2 linked regions of the Homo sapiens genome follow. The protein of the gene in region 1 binds, or shares a complex with, the protein of each later gene. Each region holds a gene or a part of one and is shown in the gene's direction. Other genes may lie near its edges.

Region 1 (7,023 bases):
TGTGCTGAGCTAGGTTTTCACAGAATCAAGAAAGTAGTGATGCTCTCTGGGAGAGCTGTTAGCAATTATGCGAAGCTGGGAGAGCTGTTAGCAATTATGTGAAGCTAAATCCTGTTCATTTAGATATTTTAGATAATGTGCTGAAAATTGTCAGTAGAGACACAAATATTTGTAACTACCATGGATCTTAAAATGTGGCTCCACATTCAAAATAGGCTATTGTCTAATCCACTCTGAAAACTTCTTTGAGGTTCTCTTTGTTCTTTTGGGAACACACATCAAAAATGTGAATTGGAACTAATCAGAGGAATTGTTTGTTGAATTCATAACATGATAGCATATATTGTTTTGTTGATCTTATCTAATGTGAATGCAGCTACCAAGTTTTTGTATAATAGTTGCTAGTGCAATCTTGAGCTATTGATTCTGATTTCTTGCTGATTTTATGCTTTGTGTTAGGATGGCATGATTCATTCCTCTGTTTTCGTTATTAATTTAAAAATGTAGATATTTATTTCAAGGTATTATAAGTGTGCATATAGTTCAGAATTTCCAAGTGTCTTAATTACCAAAATAAATTGCTGAGATGTAATTCTTTAAAATTTTAAAAAATAAGTAATGCATCTTTAGATGAGACTGTTTATGAACAGAGAAATAAGATAGGAGGTGACATGGATAGGCAATTAGTAGCTCCTCCTCAGGATTAGTCCATAAGGTGACACAAAGTATTCTTATTGTGTTCTTTTATTTTTGCAGGCTTTGTGTCATGACCTTAATTTCTTTTTCTGTTCCAACATCTGCTAGCTTTTAAATGGAATAATTTCTTTGGTATTTGCAGTGTTTGGGAGATGCTTTGAACATGCTCAGCTATTGTCCCCAAGCAACTGAGTGGGTCAAATTTGAGATTGGACTTGTTGTGGATTTAATAATCAACCCTTTTTGGCTTTAAAATATGACTTGCCCTTTATTTCACTGTTCTCGTTGTCTTTCCTGAACAGGCTGCTGATACTTTGGCTGTGAGGCAAAAAAGGAGAATTTATGATATCACCAATGTCTTAGAGGGAATTGACTTGATTGAAAAAAAGTCAAAAAACAGTATCCAGTGGAAGTAAGTTACAAACCAGCACCCTCTTCTGAAACCTTTTTTCTTCTCAGTGCTCTGTAAAATTTGACCTTCCCAATGTTTCTATCTCCCAAATCCTCTATTTCAGTCAGGCCCCTCAGCTTTCCCTGAACACACCTTTCTGGGCCTCTGTGTCACTCCTGTGTTGGGTGTTCCCTTGCTCTCTTGGATATTGGGTTTTCGCTCTTAAAATTCAAATCTTACTTTCTCCCTCAAGCTATTACTCATTTGGCACACATTGCATACTGTCTTGTATTAATCTCTTCCTAACTCTTTACCTGTCCTTGAGAGCAAGAACTACTTTCATAGGAATTTGTACTTTGTAAATAGTAATTAATTGAAACGCATGTTGTCATTAATTGTGGCCTGGTTATACGTTTGAATGTAACAATTTCTGTTCTTCTAATGTGTCCCCTTTGACCATAGTTTTTGTCTTGTTTTGTTTTCGCCAAAATTCCACCAAAACATTAAAATGTTGTAATTTATTTTACCAGCACCTCAGTCACATCCTGAGACTGCTAGGTGTGACTGCTGAGCACACTCTTTTGGTACCCAGTCACCAACCAGTCTGGCCTTCCAGATGACAAAAAAACACTGTAGGGAAGATTGAGAATTTTTGTAATTTGGTTGTTCTTGTCAATAAATTTTCTAAGCAAGAAGTATGGTGTTTAAAATTTTTAAGGATTTTAGTGCTTGATTTTAAGAGTGTAAAGACTTCTGTCTTGAATATATTACTAAATAAGTCAGTTTTATTACAGTAAAAATTAAGTGATATTAACCTAGATCTGATACTGAGGATATTAATTCTCATATGTTTTTAAGAGGTGTAGGTGCTGGCTGTAATACTAAAGAAGTCATAGATAGATTAAGATATCTTAAAGCTGAAATTGAAGATCTAGAACTGAAGGAAAGAGAACTTGATCAGCAGAAGTTGTGGCTACAGCAAAGCATCAAAAATGTGATGGACGATTCCATTAATAATAGATATCCTTTTAAATAAGTTATGCATATACATATAGCTTTGGAATATGTATGTATAAATCATTTCAGTCTAAAGATCATTCACTTTGTTTTTAGACAGTTAAGTTTTATAAGTAAATATGACATTTTAATTTTATTATATTCTTATATACTAATATTTTCTAAATGTTACCTTTTTAAGTTATATAGTACAGATCCGTTAGCGTTATTCCTGTGTTGCACTGAGGGGGAAAAAGAGATTAGCCAACTTTTGGTCTACCAATTGATAGAATGCAGTATGCTAGCCAGTGTGCTTAGGAAATCTGTGAATATTAGAAGCCATTGTTAAGTACATTTGTATTTTTAAATAATTATGTTCAGTGTTCTGAAGTATAAAATTCAGCAGCTCTCAAAGTTTTGAAAATTTTTCGTTTAAAGATGAGATATGATGTGTCCACAATCAATCCTTGATACTTTCTGCCTAACATGAACCCCAAAATAGTTCCTACTGGAGAACAGGGGTCTAAGTCGTGTGTGCCTATCAACAATATATATTGGGGGAAAAACATTATTATATATAATACATATAATATCATATATAATATATAAAATATATTTATATATAATATATAAAAACATTATTATATATATAAAAACACATATCCATGTGTTTCTTACAAACCACCGTCTTCTCTCAGGTATCTGTGATTCTCTTAGTTTATGAACTTACCTGTACTCTTAAAGAAACTAACCACATTTTACCTTGTAGCACCTCATGAAATTTTGACTAATGTATACAATATAATTTACTTTTCACATTTTCATGTATTTGGTGAACAAGTCCATGATCTCATTTGTTATTTCCTTTGTATGGATCAGAGCCCCTTAACAGTTTGAGAACAATGGGAGTTTTCAAGCTGTGTTCTGTGGAGCTCTGAAATTCAAAAGCCATTAATCTATTTTATCTTGGACTTCGCTGCCCTGCTTTACGAGATGCTGGCCATTCCCATTGCCCCAACCATGGTTATGTGTGATATATATAAAGTTTTCTGTATATTATGGTATTTTGACATCTCCATAAACCTTTCTGGCTGAGGAGAGACTGCCCATCCTGGGACTAGCCACTTCTTAGAAACAGCATGGGCTCATGTCCTTTTTAGGGTCATGGATGACGCTGGAAACCATCATTCTCAGCAAACTATCGCAAGGACAAAAAAACCAAACACCTCATGTTCTCACTCATAGGTGGGAATTGAACAATGAGAACACATGGACACAGGAAGGGGAACATCACACACCAGGGACTGTTGTGGGGTGGGGGGAGGGGGGAGGGAGAGCATTATGAGATATACCTAATGCTAAATGACGAGTTATTGGGTGCAGCACGCCAACATGGCACATGTATACATATGTAACAAACCTGCACGTTGTGCACATGTACCCTAAAACTTAAAGTATAATAATAATAAAATTAAAAAAAAAGAAACAGCATGGGCTCAGCCAGGAGCATCCCTTTGATATATAAACTAACCAGTCAAGGTCCAGACCTCCTCTCTCCAGTCCATACACCCCAGGTGGCAATATTCCTCTGCCTTAATCATCCCAGGGTCAGGTACCAGACAACTGGGGGACTACCTGCATAGCTTAGAGCCCACCAAAATTATCCAAACTAGGCCAAATGCAGTGGCTCACGCCTGTAATCCCAGCACTTTGGGAAGCCAAGGTTGGCGGATCACCTGAGGTCAGGAGTTTGAGACCAGCCTGGCCAACAGGGTGAAACCCTGTCCGTACTAAAAGTACAAAAACTAGCTGGGCATGGCAATGTGCATCTGTAATCCCAGCTACCAGGGAGGCCATAGGAGAATTGCTTGAACCCAGGAGGCAGAAGCTGCAGTGAGCCAAGATCACACTACTGCACTTCAGCTTGGGCGATAGAGCAAACTCCGTCTCAAAATAAAACAAAACAAAATTATCCAGACTAGCTAATCGTAGTGTTCTCCCCACCCTGCTTTTTTTTTTTTCCTGAGATGGAGTCGCTCTGTTGCCCAGGCTGGAGTGCAGTGATGCGATCTTGGCTCACTGCAACCTCCACCCCCCGGGTTTAAGCAATTCTTCTGCCTCAGCCTCCAGAGTAGCTGTGATTACAGGTGCTCACCACCATGCCCTGCTAAGTTTTGTATTTTAGTAGAGATGGGTTTCACCATCTCTAGACTAGACTTCTTTTTTTATCTGTCCATGTGTGGCAGCCCCTCTGTGCATATGGTCAGGCTGGTCTTGAACTCCTGACCTCAAGTGATCCACCTGCCTCGGCCTCCCAAAGTGCTGGGTGGCGTGAGCCACCATGCCCAGCCACCCTGCATTTCTTTTCCCAAGGAAACCCCAATAAAAGCTCTGGGCTAATGCTTTCCCCTTGCTCCTGTCTTCTGCCTCCTGACCACCTTGTTGTCTTAACCATGTGGCCCTGAGTAGCCTGCCTTGCCTCCCGTCACTAGGACCTATGAGTATAATACTTTGTTTTTCTGAGCCTTTCTTTAATCCTCTGTGTCCTCTTGTGGCCATACCTGACCATTTAATACAAGAACAAAAAACAACGATCACAGAAAATTCCTGATGTGGAAGCTGATATGGTTGCTGATGGCCTCCTTTTCCCCATCCATTCCCTTCCCCCAGAAACCTTTGCCTCCATGAAGAATGTGCACTGCTTTCCATCTCTCTCCTAAGGGTCCTCAAATGTCACAAAAATCAGAATGGCTTCTTCTAAGAGCAAAGGATGGGAACTCCTTTGTCTTTACCTTTCTAGACTAGACTTCTTTTTTTGTCTGTCCATGTGTGGCAGTCCCTCTGTGCATATGGTCATTTAGTTATTTTGACCTTCAGATGTATTACCTTAATTTAAATGCCTACGGCTTGATATAAATGTCGTTCCTTAACTCCTATGACAGTACATTTTCCTATGTAACTCATGAAGACATCTGTAATTGCTTTAATGGTAAGTACCATTAGACTTTTCCTTGCATTCTTCCTCTCAACCTATTTAGTGGAGGGTGATTCAGAATTCCCTGTGTCCTCATCCTGTCATTATTTTCAGAAGTTGTGGGCATTGTGTCTCACTCCACCATGCCGTGTATTGATAGACTGCTTTTGTTTCTGTTTTCATGAGAATAGCTGCTTTTCACAGCATTCAGTTCATTAGCTCCACTGGTAGGGATCAACTGTGTGTGGAAGGGGAAGGGGACAGGGACAGAGGGCAAGCTAAATCAGAGCGGGATTAAGCAACTTTCATTGTCACACAGTCACAGAGTTAGTGACCAAACTTGAACTAGAACATGGTTCTCATCAGCATTGTTTATCAAACTATATGCAAGTATGCTGGTCTCAAATGAAACTCAAAGAAACCATAAGGAAAGAATTAGGTGAATCCATCTTATAACCAGGAAACCTATTCCTATGCAATTTGCTGCCCCTGTGTTTTCTCCTTAAAATAACAATATCATGTTAATAATTATAATTATTAATATAACTAAAATGGGGGGACGTGTGTTCCCAAAATTATAGCACAAGTAAAATGAAATTGTGCATATTTAAATTTATGTGTATTATCCACCTATTTAAAAAGATTCTGCCAAGTACCTCATCAAGTGGAATCTGACTTTCTATGTAAGACTATGTTGGAAATAAGTATAGGACTATTGTTCTATTTTACCACTGTATTTCCTGAGTTTTTTAAGGAAGTTTGCTGAGACTTCTGTTAATCTGCAACTCAACAGAGATTTGTTGTAGAATTTGGCTTCAAAAATAATAAAATCATTTAAGCTCAACATTTCAGTGTCTCATACCTAATCTCCACTATCCTCAGTCCAATGAACAGTGTTATTTGAGGCTAAATGGTCTTAAGAATCTCAGACTTTACAGGAGTCTTAGTCAAAGCAAAATCAACTTGAGCTGAATTTGTTAATGAGAATCATACAGCTAACCCATGTATAATACTAATACATGTATTATCTTATTTAATCCTCAAAATAAATCTATGCAGTAGGTTGTGTATCCCCCATTTTATAGAATTGAAAATCAAAGCTCAAGGTCACCTAGTTTGGGATTGAACCAAACACTCTGATTCCAGAGCCCACATTCTTGCCACTGTATTCCATGATCAACAGTATTTTATGTAACTTTTTATATTTATTTTTGACCAGGTGATACACTTTTGGCCATTCAGGCACCTTCTGGTACACAACTGGAGGTACCCATTCCAGAAATGGTATGTAGGATAACTTATGTTTATATAAGTGGGAAAAATGAATCTACTGTCTCAAGAAGGATATTTTCTTTAGCTGAATGTGAGCTAATTGTGTAAACACTGTGAGTTAGTCAAGTTTTTATCTAAAAGTATTGATAGCTGAATTTGTATGTCTTTAATTCCTTGGTAAAATTATAGAACTAAATGAATCATAAATGATTTTAAAGATTATTGGCTATATCCTTAGTCATTTATTGATATCATTTAGCTCAAAGTCAATTTTTAAAAAGTAATCAGAATGCTTTATCAAGTGATTTTTGTTTCATACAAAAATTAAAACTATTGTATAAAATTATCTTCAGGCTATGTGAATAAGGTGTGTATGAAACAAATGAATATTGTGTTTAGACTTGGGTCCTATCCCTAAGATATCTATCCCCAAGTAACCAAATGATTTAAAATGATTTAACATTTTGATTAAATTATTTTAAATTTGAATTTTTTAAGTTAGAGGATGTCAAGAAATGACTAATCATATGGCCAATAATCTATAAAAATAAGTTAAAATGACCACATTGGGCTGGGTGCAGTGGCTCATGCCTGTAATCTCAGCACTTTGGGAGGCCAAGGCAGGTGGATCACTTGAGGTCAGGAGTTTAAGACCAGCCTGACCAACATGGTGAAACCCCATCTCTACTAAAAA
Region 2 (7,329 bases), on another chromosome or scaffold:
CATAAATGGAGAAAAATTTCTTACAAGCAGAAATTTTCTGGGAAAAGAGATTAGTTTGTGTTGGGCAACCACTTTTATAAGCTGCATGTGGAATTGTGGGAGGCCCCCAAGAGGCACACTGGACTAATTTGGACTAATTAGAAATAGTCACCATCAATCTGATTCTCAGGCTCTTGTTTGGTTGAAGAATATACACAGAGAGCCAGAGCTGAGCTATCTAGGGCAATGGAGGGACATCTTGGAGGTGATATGGGAAAGAAGAAAGGAAATGGAAAAACTGGCAGGTGAAGAATGGAAGTATCTAATGGTTAATTGCATTTTTTTTTTTTTTTTTGAGACAGAGTCTCGCTCTGTTGCCCAGGCTAGAGTGCAGTGGCGCAATCTCGGCTTACTGCAGCCTCTGCCTCCCCGGTTCAAGTGATTCTCCTCCTGCCTCAGCCTCCCAAGTAGCTGGGACTACAGGCGAGCATCATCACGCCCAGCTAATTTTTGTATTTTTAGTAGAGACGGGGTTTTGCCATTTTGGCCAGGCTGGCCTCGAACTCCTGGCCTCAAGTGATCTGTCCACCTCAGCCTCCCAAAGTGCTGGGATTACAGGCATGAGCCACCATGCCCGGCCCCCATTACCCCCAATTCTTTGATATCTGGTTCAGGTATTCTTAGCTATTATCTTTTAGTTAGTAATTTGGATGAAATGCTTTACTTTTTTTAAACATTGGGGTTAACAACTACATAAAAAATTGAGTTTGCATTTTTCAAAATTAAAGGAAAAAAAGGTAGCCAAAAGGAATCACAAGTATGACTACGGTAGGGTGAGAAAGGAGAGAGTAGCAAATGAAGGCAGAGTTAGACAGGGGACCACCAGACCCTTAGTGCCTTGTAGGCCAGGACAAGGAGCTTGGCTTAACCCTGAAAGAAATGGGGAGTCACTAGAACATTTTCAAACTTTTGGATTTTTGACAATTGAATAGATTAAAATATGGTTTTATACCGGTTTAAACTTGTATATATATTTTTCCTATTAGAAAGGTTGGGGCCGGGCACAGTGGTTCACGCCTGTAATCCCAGCACTTTGGGAGGCCGAGGCGGGTGGGATCACGAGGTCAAGAGATTGAGACCATTGTGCCAACATGGTGAAACCCCGTCTCTACTAAAAAGTACAAAAATTACCCTGGCGTTGTGGCACACGCCTATAGTCCCAGCTACTCGGGAGGCTGAGGCAGGAGAATTGCTTGATCCCAGGAGGCAGAGGTTGCAGTGAGCCGAGATCTCTCCATTGCACTCTAGCCTGGGCAACAAGAGTGAGACTCCGTCTCAATAAATAAATAAATAAATAAATAGAAAGAAAGAAAGTTGGGCATCTTTTCACATCTAAAAGCCATTTACATTTGCTTTTCTAAGATTGTATGCAAATCCTTTCCCCCTTCTGTGGGTAGAGAGGCTTTATTAATCTTTGTAATGCACTACTTCCACAGTGCAGAACCAGCTTAAAGATCACCACTTTAGTTTTTCCTCCAAGGAAAAAGAACATTAAGAATGGTGAGGTCCAGCTGGGCATGGTGGCTCACGCCTATAATCCCAGCATTTTGGGAGGCTGAGGCGGGTGCATCACCTGAGGTCAGGAGTTCAAGACCAGCCTGGCCATCATGGCGAAACCCCGTCTCTACTAAAAATGCAAAAAAAAAAGTTAGCCGGGCATGGTGGCGTGTGCCTGTAGTCCCAGGTACTTGGGGGGCTGAGGAAGGAGAATTGCTTGAACCTAGGAGGGAGAGGTTGCAGTGAGCTGAGATCTTGCCACTGCACTCCAGCCTGGGTGACAGAGTGAGACTCTGTCTCAAAAAAAAAAAAAAAGAATGGTGAGGTCAGGTCTTGCCCCTCCCCCACAAATATCAACTGCTTTTTTTTTTTTTTTTTTTTTTTTTAATAGAAGGTTAGACAAGCAGTTTGTCCTGAGAGGGGCAAGTGCAGACTGATTTTCTGCTTAGGGCATAGCAAAGCTGGAGGACAAAAAAAGAAAAAAAAATTTAAGAATTTCAAAATGAGACATCTTGGGAAAATTAGTTAGAACTTTCTTGTACTTTCTTACACTTATTTTGTGATTTAGAATTGCATATATTTTGAATTACATTTGGAAGGGTACACACTATAATCTTTTTAGTCTTGGAATCCCTAAAGGTCATAATCAGGTTCCAACCACATGCTTTGGGAGAACTCTGAAATATTAAACCACAACAGGGAGGCTAATCATAGAGGCTATCACACAATGGGATCAAAATAGAAACAACCTTCATGTGTATCTGGCTCAAAACTGAAGGGCAGAGTAAATCTATTTCACTACCCATACTTCATTTTCTTTTTTCTTTTTTTTTTTTTTTTTTTTGAGACGGAGTCTCGCTCTGTCACCAGGCTGGAGTGCAGTGGCACGATCTTGGCTTACTGCAACCTCCGCCTCCCAGGTTCCAGCGATTCTTCTACCTCAGCCTGCCAAGTAGCTGGGATTACAAGCGCCCGCCACCATGCCCAGCTAATTTTTGTATTTTTAGTAGAGACGGGGTTTCACCATGTTGGCCAGGATGATCTCGATCTCCTGATCTGGTGACCCGCCTGCCTCAGCCTCCCAAAGTGCTGGGATTACAGGTGTGAGCCACTGCAACCGGCCTTCCATACTTCATTTTCTATTCAGAAAAGCTCAATTTTGGGTTAAATGGGCATGTCCTGGGATAATAAGAAAAAATAAAACCAATATAAGGAAGGGCATATTGATTTTTGGTTTTTTTAAATGCATGCAGGTGAGGCTGGGTTTGACAGATGTGTCCTCAGTTGTTTGTTTTTGAGACAGAGTCTCACTCTGTTACCCAGACTGGAGTGCAGTGGTGCAATCTTGGCTTACTACAGCCTCTGCCTCCTCGGTTCAAGCGATTCTTTATTCTCATGTCTCAGTTGCCCAGGTTGTTAGGATTACACAAGTGCACCCACACGCCCAGCTAATTTTTATATTTTTAGTAGTGACGGGGTTTTGCCTTGTTGGCCTGACTGGTCTCAAACTCCTGGACTCAAGTGATCCACCTGCCTCGGCCTCCCAAAGTACTGGGATTACAGGCAAAGCAAATAATGGAACAACAAAAGAACGAAGACAGGGATTTATTGAAAACAAAAGTACACTCCATAGTGGGGAAGCGAACCCACGCAGCAGCTCAAGGGCCCAGACACAGAATCTTCTGGGGTCCAAATACCCTCTAGAAGTTTCCCATTGGCCACTTTATGCTCTCTTGATGTAACTGAAGTGGTAGCCCACAATCAGTCTGAGTGGTTGCAGAAAGCAACCAATCAGAGGCCAGGGTGAAGTTAACAAAATTATACTTCTATGCAAAGGAAGACTCTCCCGCCATCAGTCTGATTGGTTGTGGACAGCAACCGTTCAGAGGCTGGAGTGAAGTTACAAAGTTGCAAACAAAGACTGGAAGGCGCTCAGTGTGATTTGTTGCAGACAGCCAATTTCCCATCTGCCATGCAGAAAAGGTCCAAGGGAACAGCCTCTGGTTCTTTTGTTACTTAGGCGTGGAAAGTTGGGGTTTTCCTTTCAATTTAGTTCTAAGAAGTCACGTGAAACAGCCATAGGTTCCCTGCCTCCAGACCCTATTCTCCTGCCTCATTTACTGCAGTCTTCTCTGCCTGCCTCTTTTAGCGACTAGCATGAGATGAGGATTCGTCTTCTAATATCCGTCACCAATCCTTCCCCTCTGTCATTTAGCGAACCACTCACTGGGCACTAGGACTTTGGGGAGAGTCCCAAGAGGCCCCTCTTCGTCCAGGGGCTACTTTTTTCTCTTCCAGCCTCCATCTCCTAACTCAAGGGGTACAGCTCAGATTATGTTTGGCGCCCAGGGACAGTGACAAACCCAGGGCCCGTGGATAGAGGAGGCATCTCACTACGCTGCACGAGGCCACCTCGCAGTAGGCAGCCCAGCCCTGCCCCAAAACCCAAGAGCCTAACCAGGAAGACAGGGGGAGGCCGCGGGCTTCATCTCCCAAGAGATGGACTACACCTCCCAGCAGGCTCTGCGCGCGGGCTGAGGATCCCTCCGCTCTTTTTCTGTCCCGCCGGCTGGGCCCCCCGCGACCAGCCAAGGGCCAAGGACAGGTCTTTCAGAATCTGAGGTACATCTTCTTATCACATTTCCGGGGAGGGACTGCTAGGAGCTCCGGAGGAAAAACGGACTTTTTTTGAGGAGAAAAGCGGAGGCAGACGGTGGATGACAACACGTCCCGCAGCTGCAGATTTTCGCGCGCTTTGGCGCAGGTGGTTGTGGGTAGCGCGCCTGGGAGGGAGAAAGAAGTCGGGGGCCGTGGCGCGCAGCCCGCGGGGCCTGAAGGGATGTTCGAGGACAAGCCCCACGCTGAGGGGGCGGCGGTGGTCGCCGCAGCCGGGGAGGCGCTACAGGCCCTGTGCCAGGAGCTGAACCTGGACGAGGGGAGCGCGGCCGAAGCCCTGGACGACTTTACTGCCATCCGAGGCAACTACAGCCTAGAGGTGAGCGGCAGCAGGTGGGGCGGCCGGACCCTACCCTCGCCAGGCCCCACCCCTGCCCCGCCCCTTCCTCGGCCTATGGGGTGGTGGGAGTTTCCCCACCTAGGAGGGTCGCTGCGCAGCCAAGCGCCGAGGGGCGGGAAAGGTGGGTGTAGCTCAGCCAATCCACCCATCATTTTGAGGCGGGAAACTGAAGCTCAGGAAAGGAGCGGCCTAGGTCCCGCGCCGCTCAGACCCCAGGCTTCCTGACCACACTTCCCTCTACCCCGCCAAGCGCCACAAAAGTCATGGTGCTGCCCTTAAATCAGTAAGAACAAATATAATGGTAAAGTGAAAATGAACTGCATGCCAAGACATCACTGCCCAGAGCTTTAAATGGACCCTCAGTTCCGTCTGAACCCCTTCTGTGATCCCCATTTCACGCAAGAGGAAGCGGAGCCCTAGACGGGTTAAGCTACAGGCCCAAGGTCACACGGTTAGAGATGGAGCCAGACCCAGGGTCTGAGCCGTTTAACCTCCACCCTCTGCTTCACCAGGGTGGAGCTGCCGGTCGCTGTGCAGCAGTTTGATCAAAGCCAATGTGCACACGAAGCTGATCTCAGCCCTACGTTTCCTCCTCCGTCAGAGCATCGTCCTGATGCTTTGCATCAGTGTCTGGCTCTGAATAAAACAAATGTCAGTTATAATTACTTGATTTTTTTCCCCATCATTCTTGCATTTTATCCTCGCAACAGCCCTGTGAACATGGCATGGCAATGAGTATTAGACTGCTTTCCAGGTGATAATGGCAAGGCTCAGAAGGTTGTCTTGCCTAGGATTATTCTAATATAGAAACCCAGGCTGGGCGTGGCGGCTCACGCCTATAATCCCAGCACTTTGGGAGGCCAAGGCGGGCGGATCACTTGAGGCCAGGAGTTCGAGACTAACCTGGGCAACACGGCGAAACCCCATCTCTACTAAAAAAATACAAAAACTAGCTGGGTGTGGTGGCGCCTGCCTGTAATCTAGCTACTCGGGAGGCTGAGGCAGGAGAATTGCTTAAACCCAGGAGGCATAGGCCGCAGTGAGTGGAGATCACACCACTGCACTCCAGCCTGGGTGACAGCAAGACTCTATCTAAAAACAGAGAAAGAAACCCAGACGAGCATAAGCCCAGTGTAGACAGAATTGTGATGGAGTGTATTTCATGTAGCACCACTGGCCTCATGTTCAAAGGCTTTCATGTGCCAAGGGCGCTGGACCCACTCCCAGGGTGCACCACTGACTCACCACCCAGTGAAATAATTGCTGGGTTCAAAGGCATAGAGTTGGAAAAGTGTCGATTGTATGTGTGCCTATATATGAAGGAGTAGTACCTGAAAAAAGTGTCTTCAGAACTGGATAGACTGGGTAAAGGACAATGGTCCACATCCGTGGGTGGCATGACTGGAGAGCTGTGGGAAGAATAAGAAAGTAAGGGAGATTAGAATGAATGGCGTCTCAATTGAAAACAGATTGATTTTTGAAAGCCTGAGAAAGCATTTCTGACATCCTAGGTCTGATTTGGTCTCTCTTGCCCAAGGTCACACCATCTGTCATTGAATAAGCATTTACTGTGTCAAACTATGGTCAAGGCATGCACCTGTTTCAGATTCTTGAATATGACAAGTTTGTTCCCAGTTTTGTGGTATATCCATGCCATTCCCTCTGCCTGGAATATTTCCCCTCACCCCCAACACCAGGAAAAGTTGAGAGCTAAATCTCTAGTTAGGCAGAGTTGAATAGGACATCTTCAATGTTTGCTCTACTTATTTATTTTTTCTTTCTTTTTTTCTTCCTTAGAAACAGGGTCTTGGCCGGGCGCACGGTGGCTCACACCTGTAATCCCACCACTTTGGGAGGCTGAGGTGGGCAGATCACCTTAGGTCAGGGGTCCAAGACCAGCCTGGCCAGCATGGTGAAACCCCGTCTCTACTAAAAATATAAAATTAGCTGAGCATGGTGACGTGCACTTGTAATCCCAGCTACTCAGGAGGCTGAGGCAGGAGAATCTCTTGAAACCAGGAGGTAGAGGTTGCAGTGAGCCAAGATCACGCCATTGCACTCCACCCTGCACAAGAGTGTAACTCCATCTCAAAAAAAAAAAAAAAATGGAAAGAAACAGGGTCTTGCTCTTTTGACCAGGCCTGGAATGCAGTGGTGCAATTATAGCTCACTGTAAACTCAAACTTCTGTGCTCAAGTGATGTTCCTGCTTCAGCCTCCCCAGTAGCTGGGACTATAGGCATGCACCACGGTGCTCAGCTAATTTTTCAATTTTTTGTGGAGATAGTATCTGACTATGTTGCCCAAGCTGGTCTTGAACTGGCCTCAAGTGATTTTTCTGCCGCAGCCTCCCAGAGCATTGGGATTACAAGCATGAGCCACCGAGCCCAGCCCAATGCTTGCTTTAGAAAGCACAAATGTATGAACTGAAATTTTGTGTTTATTCTATCCAGTGTTTATTTTCCTCTTTTTTTAAAATCAATTTTTTAAAGGTATTTGGAGTAGTCATTTTCATATATCTCATGCTTCCTAAGAAGTCTTTCTCCAATCCCTACCCCTCTCTAGTCTACCTGACAAACTCCTGCTTACATTTTTATTGATTTACAAATTTTGTCTCCTTTTGTGAGGCCTTCCCTAAACTGTAGTCAAAATCAGTTATTCACTGCACTATATTCTCCTACAACACTTTATCTTCAGTTCTTCTTATAGCTTGTATATCTCACCAATTATAAATGATAGTATCTGTTCCTCTTCTTAGCTCCAGATGTGAAGTTCTGT

What was found. The genes of interacting proteins can lie anywhere in the genome.
Region 2: the proteins of E2F5 (region 1) and RBL1 are in contact, whole or in part, in a crystal structure (PDB 5TUV), measured with the Homo sapiens proteins. Residues at the interface, in NP_001942.2 of Homo sapiens: Met162 (codon at 2,085), Ile190 (codon at 6,294), Ala192 (codon at 6,300), Pro193 (codon at 6,303), Ser194 (codon at 6,306), Gly195 (codon at 6,309), Thr196 (codon at 6,312), Gln197 (codon at 6,315), Leu198 (codon at 6,318), Glu199 (codon at 6,321), Val200 (codon at 6,324), Pro201 (codon at 6,327), Ile202 (codon at 6,330), Pro203 (codon at 6,333), Glu204 (codon at 6,336), Met205 (codon at 6,339), Tyr213, Leu217; in NP_002886.2 of Homo sapiens: Ser1000, Ala1001, Leu1002, Leu1003, Tyr1004, Lys1005, Phe1006, Asn1007, Ile1017, Met1020, Ile1021, Gly1024, Glu1025.

Annotation. Positions count from the first base shown.
Region 1 is NC_000008.11:85,201,149-85,208,171, forward strand, and holds part of E2F5 (transcription factor E2F5), read left to right. Parts: intron 1-998; coding exon 999-1,108; intron 1,109-1,945; coding exon 1,946-2,107; intron 2,108-5,028; coding exon 5,029-5,072; intron 5,073-6,276; coding exon 6,277-6,341; intron 6,342-7,023.
Region 2 is NC_000020.11:37,092,975-37,100,303, reverse strand, and holds the start of RBL1 (retinoblastoma-like protein 1), read left to right. Parts: upstream 1-4,306; 5' UTR 4,307-4,375; coding exon 4,376-4,531; intron 4,532-7,329. UniProt on the Homo sapiens protein: Key regulator of entry into cell division. Directly involved in heterochromatin formation by maintaining overall chromatin structure and, in particular, that of constitutive heterochromatin by stabilizing histone methylation.